2 linked regions of the Homo sapiens genome follow. The protein of the gene in region 2 purifies or fractionates together with the protein of the main gene of each other region. This does not show direct contact. Each region holds a gene or a part of one and is shown on either strand. Other genes may lie near its edges.

The links.
Region 1: the proteins of DUSP13B (region 2) and PDIA6 purify together in Homo sapiens (affinity purification with mass spectrometry, with the first as the bait; 2 studies listed by BioGRID). This does not show direct contact.

Annotation. Positions count from the first base shown.
Region 1 is NC_000002.12:10,802,767-10,809,805, forward strand, and holds part of PDIA6 (protein disulfide-isomerase A6 isoform d precursor), read right to left. Parts: intron 1-7,039. UniProt on the Homo sapiens protein: May function as a chaperone that inhibits aggregation of misfolded proteins. Negatively regulates the unfolded protein response (UPR) through binding to UPR sensors such as ERN1, which in turn inactivates ERN1 signaling.
Region 2 is NC_000010.11:75,093,898-75,096,513, forward strand, and holds the end of DUSP13B (dual specificity protein phosphatase 13B), read right to left. Parts: intron 1,899-2,616; coding exon 1,678-1,898; intron 982-1,677; coding exon 779-981; 3' UTR 539-778; downstream 1-538. UniProt on the Homo sapiens protein: Dual specificity phosphatase that dephosphorylates MAPK8/JNK and MAPK14/p38, but not MAPK1/ERK2, in vitro. Exhibits intrinsic phosphatase activity towards both phospho-seryl/threonyl and -tyrosyl residues, with similar specific activities in vitro.

The sequences.
Region 1 (7,039 bases), on a different chromosome or scaffold from region 2:
CCTCTGCCCTTCCTGCTGCAGTTGGAGCCCCTGGAATTTCACTCCCATTGCTGCAACGCTGAGCAAGAAAGGAACGGACGGTCCCCACTCCCACTCCTTGGGCTGCACTGGAAAAAGGCTGAAGCATTATTCTTAGTGGCTTTCATGTATCAACGTCTTTGTTCTTTACAACCGCTCCATGAGGCAGTACTACTGTCATTTTATGGCATGGACGCTGAAAAATTGGGAGGTCACTTCTGCCTGTGTAACCCTGGGCAATCACGTAGTAATCATTCCTCATGTTATTCAGTTGCAATTATTAGCACATTATCTTTATTCAAATATATTTTTGAAGGGAAAATAATTATTGTCTCTTCCACTAGATTGTGACTCTTTCAAGGGCAATGGTAATTTATTTATTTATATTTTGAGACGGAGTTTCGCTCTTGTTGCCCAGGCTGGAGTGCAATGGCATGATCTTGGCTCACCACAACCTCCGCCTCCCAGGTTCAAGCAATTCTCCTGCTTCAGCCTCCCAAGTAGCTGGGATTACAGGCATGTGCCATCACGCCCGGCTAATTTTGTATTTTTAATAGAGACAGGGTTTCTCCATGTTGGTCAGGCTGGTCTCGAACTCCTGACCTCAGGTGATCCGCCTGCCTCGGCCTCCCAAAGTGCTGGGATTACAGGCATGAGCCATGGCGCCCAGCCAATGTTTATTTTTATAAATAGTTTTATTTCTCTTAATACTATCCATAACACATTATCAGAAACACTGTTCGTGTGAACAACCTTATAAAGACAGGATACAGTGTCGACTGTATTGCTGACCACACAGTTCTGCCACATTGTGGATCAAGAGCATTTTCATTAGCAACTCTGGAAACTTACATGCAATTTACAACAATAATTTAGGAAAACAAATTCTGAACTTACTAGTATCTTAAGAACCCAAAAGTTCTCTGAAATGGCATTACTATCAAAATTTCACCTTTTAAATTTACATATACAGTCACATCCACAGGGTCAAGGAGAGAACACATATATGAGGGTGGTCCTGTGGATTATAATGGAGCTTAAAAAATCCTATCACCTTGTGATGCCTTGATAACTCTGACCCTGAGTAGACCTAGGCTAATGTGCGTGTTTGTGTCCTAGTTTTTGTGTTTTTTTTTTTTTTTGAGACAGAGTCTTGCTCTGTCACCCAGGCTGGAGTGCATTGGCGCTATCTCGGCTCACTGCAAGCTCTGCCACCCGGGTTCACGCCATTCTCCTGCCTCAACCTCCTGAGTAACCGGGACTACAGGCGCCTGCCACCACGCCTGGCTAATTTTTTGTATTTTTAGTAGAGATGGGGTTTCACTGTGTTAGCCAGGATGGTCTCGATCTCCTGACCTTGTGATCCGCCCGCCTCGGCCTCCCAAAGTGCTGGGATTACAGGCGTGAGCCACCGTGCCCGGCCCTGTGTCCTAGTTTTTGACAAAAAAGTTTAAAAAACTAAAACAAACTTTAAAAACGAAAAAAACCTACGTTTTCTTCTAGGGTTTTTATGGTTTTAGGTCTAACGTTTAAGTCTTTAATCCATCTTGAATTGATTTTTGTATAAGGTGTAAGGAAGGGATCCAGTTTCAGCTTTCTACATATGGCTAGGCAGTTTTCCCAGCACCATTTATTAAATAGGGATTCCTTTCCCCATTGCTTGTTTTTCTCAGGTTTGTCAAAGATCAGATAGTTGTAGACAGGCAGCGTTATTTCTGAGGGCTCTGTTCTGTTCCATTGATCTATATCTCTGTTTTGGTACCAGTACCATGCTGTTTTGGTTACTGTAGCCTTGTAGTATAGTTTGAAGTCAGGTAGTGTGATGCCTCCAGCTTTGTTCTTTTGGCTTAGGATTGCTTTGGCGATGCGGGCTCTTTTTTGGTTCCATATGAACTTTAAAGTAGTTTTTTCCAATTCTGTGAAGAAAGTCATTGGTAGCTTTATGGGGATGGCATTGAATCTGTAAATTACCTTGGGCAGTATGGCCATTTTCACGATATTGATTCTTCCTACCCATGAGCATGGAATGTTCTTCCATTTGTTTGTATCCTCTTTTATTTCCTTGAGCAGTGGTTTGTAGTTCTCCTTGAAGAGGTCCTTCACATCCCTTGTAAGTTGGATTCCTAGGTATTTTATTCTCTTTGAAGCAATTGTGAATGGGAGTTCACTCATGATTTGGCTCTCTGTCTGTTGTTGGTGTATAAGAATGCTTGTGATTTTTGTACATTGATTTTGTATCCAAAAGCAATGGCAACAAAAGACAAAATTGACAAATGGATCTAATTAAACTAAAGAGCTTCTGCACAGCAAAAGAAACTACCATCAGAGTGAACAGGCAACCTACAAAATGGGAGAAAATTTTCGCAACCTACTCATCTGACAAAGGGCTAATATCCAGAATCTACAATGAACTCAGACAAATTTACAAGAAAAAAACAAACAACCCCATCAAAAAGTGGGCGAAGGACATGAACAGACACTTCTCAAAAGAAGACATTTATGCAGCCAAAAAACACATGAAAAAATGCTCATCATCACTGGCCATCAGAGAAATGCAAATCAAAACCACAATGAGATACCATCTCACACCAGTTAGAATGGCAATCATTAAAAAGTCAGGAAACAACAGGTGCTGGAGAGGATGTGGAGAAATAGGAACACTTTTACACTGTTGGTGGGACTGTAAACTAGTTCAACCATTGTGGAAGTCAGTGTGGCGATTCCTCAGGGATCTAGAACTGGAAATACCATTTGACCCAACCATCCCATTACTGGGTATATACCCAAAGGACTATAAATCATGCTGCTATAAAGACACATGCACATGTATGTTTATTGCGGCATTATTCACAATAGCAAAGACTTGGAACCAACCCAAATGTCCAACAATGATAGACTGGATTAAGAAAATGTGGCACATATACAGCATGGAATACTATGCAGCCATAAAAAATGATGAGTTCATGTCCTTTGTAGGGACATGGATGAAATTGGAAATCATCATTCTCAGTAAACTATTGCAAGAACAAAAAACCAAACACCGCATATTCTCACTCATAGGTGGGAATTGAACAATGAGATCACATGGACACAGGAAGGGGAATATCACACTCTGGGGACTGTTGTGGGGTGGGGGGAGGGGGGAGGGATAGCATCGGGAGATATACCTAATGCTAGATGAGGAGTTAGTGGGTGCAGTGCACCAGCATGGCACATGTACCCTAAAACTTAAAGTATAATTAAAAAAAAAAAAAAAAAAACGAAAAAAACCTTACAGAATACGGATATAAAAGAAAATACTGGCCAGGTGCTATGGGTCATGCTTGTAATCCCAGCACTTTGGGAGGCCAAGGCAGGCAGATCGCTTGAGCTCAGGAATTCAAGACCAGCCTGGGCAACATAGTGAGACCCCCTCTCTAAAAAAAGTACAAAAATTAGCCAGGCATGGTGGTGCATGCCTATAGTCCTAGCTACTCGAGAGGCTGAGGTGGGAGGATCACTGAGCCCAGGGAGGTCGAGGCTACGGGTGCAGTGGGCTGTGATGCACCACTCACTCCAGCCTGATAGGGCAAGACCTTGTCTCAAAAAAAAAAAAAAAAGAGAGAAAATATTTTTGTACTGCTGTTTTGTATAATGCGTTTTAAGGTAAGTGTTTTTACAAGAGCCAAAAAGTTAAAAAAAAAAAATTAAGTTTAGAAAGTAAAATGTTGACCAGATGCCATGGCTCACACCTATAATCCCAACACTTTGGAGGCCAAAGTGGGAGGACTGCTTGAGGCCAGCAGTTCAAAACCAGGCTGGCCAACACAGAATAGCAAAACCACATCTCCTAAAAAATAAAGACAGAAAGAAAGAAAGAAAGAAAAACGTTACAGTAAATTAAGGTTAATCTATTATCCAAGAAATAAAATTTTTAGAGCAACCCCCAGTCATGCAAGCTGCATTCACGGTAAATGTCCTGTACAGGTGTACTATTTTAATCTTTTATATCATATTTTTACTGCACCCTTTCTATGTTTAGATACACAAATGCTTGCCATTGTGTTACAACTGCATACAATATTCAGTACAGTAACATGCCGAACAGATTTATAACCTAAGAGAAATAAGCTATACCATGTAGCCTAGGTTTTTAGTAAGTTATGCCATCTAGGTTTGTATTAAGTACACACTGATGTTATTCACAATGAAGAAATCGTCTGATACAATAGCAATTAAAGAAATTTCTATTCCTGTCTTTTCAGCATCTCTGAAGTTGATCATAATTCAGATCACGTCTCTAATGTTAAGCAACACATGACAATATACAAAAATTTGCTGATTACCTCTAGAACAAGGTAAATAATGGAATATCCTCAGACTATTCTTGACTTCAACAAGGTTTTCCTATTTGCATCATGCTGGCTTTTGGATTGAAATAAATACACTTTTTAATTTTTTTTGAGAGAGGGTCTTGATCTGTCACCCAGACTGGAGTGCAATGGTGCAAACACAGCTCCCTGCAGCAGCCCTGACCTCCTGGGCTCAAGTGATCCTCCCACCTCAGCACCCCCAGTAGCTGGGACTACAGGTGCATCCCTGGCTAACTTTTAAATTTTTTGTAGAGACAGGGTCTCCCTGTGTTGCCCAGGCTGGTCTCAAGTGATCCTCCTGCCTCTGCCTCCCAAAGTGCTGGGATTACAGGTATGAGTGACCACGCCAGGCCAAAATGTACTTACAATGTTAACGAAATTTCTATCTATTCCTGTCTTTTCAGCATCTCTGAAGTTGATCATATCATTTCTTCCTTTTAATTTGTTGATATAGCAAATTATAAGTGAGACTGGCCTGTGTTCTCAAGTAGTGTGTGTACATGCCATCTTAGTTACATTTTCACATGCTTGCTTCACAATTAGAATTTGGAAGATTTCAAATGGACCTTTTTGGAATAACTAAATGGTACACTTTTTCTGGAAGGAGTGTACACCATTGTTCATTGTTTTACTGCTAAATCCTCCATCATACAACACGTTCAATTTTTCAAATCACTATCAAATGTTAGATCACTTAATTTTTGACAGCATTACTAACTAGAAAGTAGGACTTATCCCCATTTTGTAAATAAAGGTCTAGACCAAATGGCCCATCTATGGTCATACATATAAGGGGCAGGGCAGCTCTCCATTTCCAAGCTTTTCCTATTACACCATGCTGTCTTTTTAGTGCTCAAGATAAAGTGGTTCTGTACGCTATAGGTATGAATGAACAATTATGGTATTCAAGATTTACACTGCATTTGAATCACAGATATAGCCAATACTGTAAGAACTTATAAAACTGTTAATTTTACTAATAGTGAAGCCACTAAAGGGTTATCATTCAGAGGAAAGAATAGATTTATGCTTTCTAGAAGGAGTATTCCAGTTGCCATGTGGAAGGTGGATTGGGAGAATTATCCAGAGTGGTGTCACATAAACCAAGATACATGTGGAAGGGGCCACACTAACAAATGCTACTGGGAGATAAAGTAGCAAAGACTTAAAACCATCTACTGATTGGATTTAGTGACAAAGAAGTCACTGGGAGCCCTGGCAGTTGTGGTGGAGTGAAAATAACAGGCATGCAGTCTGCAGAAGGTTGGAGAGAATATAGGTAACTCTTTAAGCAGGTTTCATTATAGAGACCAGAGGCAGGCAAATGTAGAAAACAAGGAAGGTTTTCTTTGAAGATGGGAGTGATCTAGGAGAGGAAGACATATGCAGTGGGAGAGGCCAAAGATAAAATACAGGGAGTATCTGAATAAAATGCCCAGAGTCAGAAGAGGAGCGGGAACCCAGTCAGTGATGGAGTAGCCTTTGATAGGATGATCTCCTTTTCCATTTCAAGAGGTGGGAAAGGATGCCTGTGAATGGATGCCAGGCTAACCAAAGCGGGGCTGCTCTCTCAGTAACAGGTTATCCAGCATGATAGCCACTAGCTACATGTGGCTACCCCAAACTAAGATATGCTGGTAAAAACACACTGAATTCTGAAGACTTAATGGAGGGAAAAATGTAATCTCATTATTTTTCTTTTTTTTTGAGACGGCGTCTCACTCAGCTGCCCAGGCTGGAGTGCAGTGGTGCAATCTTGGCTCACTGCAACCACTGTCTCCTGGGTTCAAGCGATTCTCCCGTCTCAGGATTACAGGCATCAGCCATCATGCCCGGCTAATTTTTGTATTTTAGTAGAGATGGGGTTTCACCATGTTGGCCAGGCTGGTCTTGAACTCCTGACCTCAGGTGATCCGCCCACCTTGGCCTCCCAAAGTGCGAGGATTACAGGCGTGAGCCACCGTGCCCGGCCTCAATATTATTTTTCATTTTGAAAACACATGTTTAAATGATCTTAGATATACTCAGTAAATATATTAATTTCACCTGTTTCTTTTGGCCATTTTAAATGTAGCTACTAGAAAATTTAAAATTACATATATGTTTGCATTATATTTCTATTGGATGGCACTGCTCATTAATCTTTTCACTGCTGCAGAAAAGGTGAAGTAGAGTTTGACACGTTTAACAAAGCCAAGTAAATCAAGAACATAAGCACTGACAGTCCTAACTCTGAATAAGCTTGAAAGTAAGACTAAGGCTGGGTGTGGTGGCTTAGGCCTGTAATCCCAGAACTTTGGGAGGATGAGGCGGGTGGATAACCTGAGCCAGGAGTTTGAGACCAGCCTGGGCAACATGGCAAAACTCCATCTCTTGTAGAGAAAAAATATGAAATACAAAAATGCAAAAATTAGCTCGGTATGGTAGGGTGCATCTGTAGCCGCAGCTACTCCAGAGGCTGATGTGGGAGGATTGCTTGAGCCTGGGAGGCAGAGCAAGACCCGGTCTCAAAAAAAAAAAAAAAAAAAAAAAAAAACCCAAAAAATAGGATAATCTTCTACAGAGATGTACTACTTTTAAAGAACTTTATCTTTTTTGTAAAATCGATATGAATTTGGTACTTGCTCAGTACACTGAGCCTATTGTGAAATTTTCAAAAATGGAAAAGC
Region 2 (2,616 bases):
GCCAAGATAAGAACTAAGAAACTCAGAGCTATTTTGTTCCATCATATAACTGTCCTTTGCCTAGTATTTCTGGTATGTCTCCTTCCCAACCCCATCATCCTCTTGTTTAATGCTTTAATTTGTTAGGAGTCTAATTTTAAGCAGTCCGTTTGAAAGCAGAGTGCTAGTGAAAAGACTGACTGGTTTCAAGAGATGCTACTAGTGGACAGTGAATTTTGATATTTAGCCTTGGGTAGGATGGGCATGGAGATAATGGTGATGCATTGAACTTGGGTCTTTATCAGACAACCTAACTATTGGGTGAGGGTATGAGGAGGACAAGATGAGGAGGACAAGATGAGGACGAGGTTATCTAATCCTCACACTTGTACCCCCAAACCTTCCTCCTGCACCCAAGGCAGATATCACGAATTATTCCCACCTGTACTCCTCCCCGAGGCTGCCATCCCACTGAATCAGAGTTGGCAAGCCATCTGGAACCTTGTGACCATCCCGAGAGTAAGTCCTTGCCCCACAGACCACCAAAAGATCACCTGTCTTTATGACGATGAATATTTTATTATAGAGATGGACTGAACTCACTTTTGCATAAAGAATCTCTGAATTGGGTCAGGGAAATCCACCCGCTAAGAGGTCACCACCCAGCTATCCCTGCCTCTGCCTCAGCCCCCACTTGCTGTTTACATCTCAGGGTCACTAGAAACAGCAGAGCCTGCTGTTCCCAGGGCCAGGCTGGTGGGGTTGGGCCAAGGGTCAGGGATCCTGGCTGCCTGCCAGATCAGAACCGCCCCGTCTCCCGCCCCAGTCGGTTGTCCAGAACCTGGAGCTGCCGGAGGAAGCCTGAGTTAGGGCAGATATTGCGGTGGGCCTGCACCGTCTGGATGGCCTCTACCAGCGTCATGTTCTCACAGATCATGAGGAAGGCCAGGACAAGTGTGGCAGAGCGGCTTACCCCCATGGCACAGTGTACCAGCACGCGGCCTGTAGGGAGAACCAACTTAGCATCAGCTACCTGCCCTTGAACCACCCACCCCTTTGGGAAGAAGAGACACCCATGGCCATCCTCTACAGTATCCTGGAATACTGACACTGTCTACTCTGTCAAATGGGGCAACTGAAGCCCAAAGAGAGGAGGCTGGCTCAAAGTCACATAGCAAGTTAGAGGCAGGGTTTAGGTTAGCAGCCGGGATTTCCTTCTTCCAGTCCAGGTGCTTCCTCAGGCATCCTTTGCAACTCTGGGCCAGGGGAAGGGGGTTTACTGAATTCCTGAGGTCACTGGGTTTGCATCAGATTATAGGGGGTGTCCATCTACCTCCCTTTCCCCCGAGTTCTGCCCTCTCGACTGCCCCTGCAGCTCTATGCCAAGGCCTCATCTTAGAGGAACCCGCTCAAGAGCTTCACTGGGTCCTATACCTTCTGTCCAGTGCCTGGCCTCTTATGGAGGGATGTGGTGATGCTGATGACCACACTGCATCTTAGTTATGTCTGCAATTGCTAGCCTCCAGGGTGTCCCTGAAGGGGACACTCACTGAATGGTAGTAGCTATTTTCCCTATGGAGTGGGAGGGTTACTGAAAGGGTTTGTCTCTCTGGACTCCCACCCACCAGTGCTACTGGAATAATGGAGAGTCCTAAAGCACACCCTCCACCCTCCACCATGCCTGATCCAGAAGTGCACCTTGGGGAACACTGAGGGCAGCTCGGATGTATCGAGCAACAGGCAGAAAGTAGACACTGAGGTCGAAGAAGGGGTTGTCGTCCGCCTCGATGCCATAGTACTCCAGGGACATTCCACGGTAGAATTTGGCACCTGTGTCCACCTGGAACTTGCCTGCAGCGGCATTCACAACGTGGGTGATTCCCAGCTGGATCAGCTTGCTCTTGTCCCGGGCTGCGTACCTGGAGGAGAGGGCACAAGGGGTTAGGAGAGTGGAGGTAGATCTCACTGTGGCAGCTCTGGCTGGGTTGAAGTTTGCAAACACCCCCGCCCACCACCCACCAAGGGTAGAGACAAGAGCCTGCAAATTGGCCCAGGGTGAAGGGGCTCCTCCTGTTGGAGTTTAAGACTCCTTTTCGGGCTGGGTGCGGTGGCTCACGCCTATAATCCCAGCACTTTGGGAGACCGAGGTGGGCAGATCACTTGAGGTCAGGAGTTTGAGACCAGCCTGGCCAACATGGTGACACCCCATCTCTACTAAAAATACAAAAATTAGCCAGGCATGGTGGTGGGCACCTGTAGTCCCAGCTACTCAGAAGACTGAGTCAGGAGAATCACTTAAACCCAGGAGGCGGAGGTTGCAGTGAGCCAAGATTATGCCACTGCACTCTAGCCTGGGCAACAGAGCTAGACTCCATCTCAAAAAAACAACAACAACAACAAAAAATAGACTCCTTTTCAGGCCAGGCACTGTGGCTTATGCCTATAATCCCAACACTTTGGGAGACTAAGGCGGGAGGATTCATTGAGCTCAGGAGTTCGAGACCAGCCTGGGCAACATGGCAAAACCTTATCTCTACAAACAATGCAAAAATTAGCCAGGCATGGTGGCATATGCCAGTAGTCCCAGCTACTTGGGAGGCTGAGGTGGGAGAATCACCTGAGCCTGGGAGGTTGAGG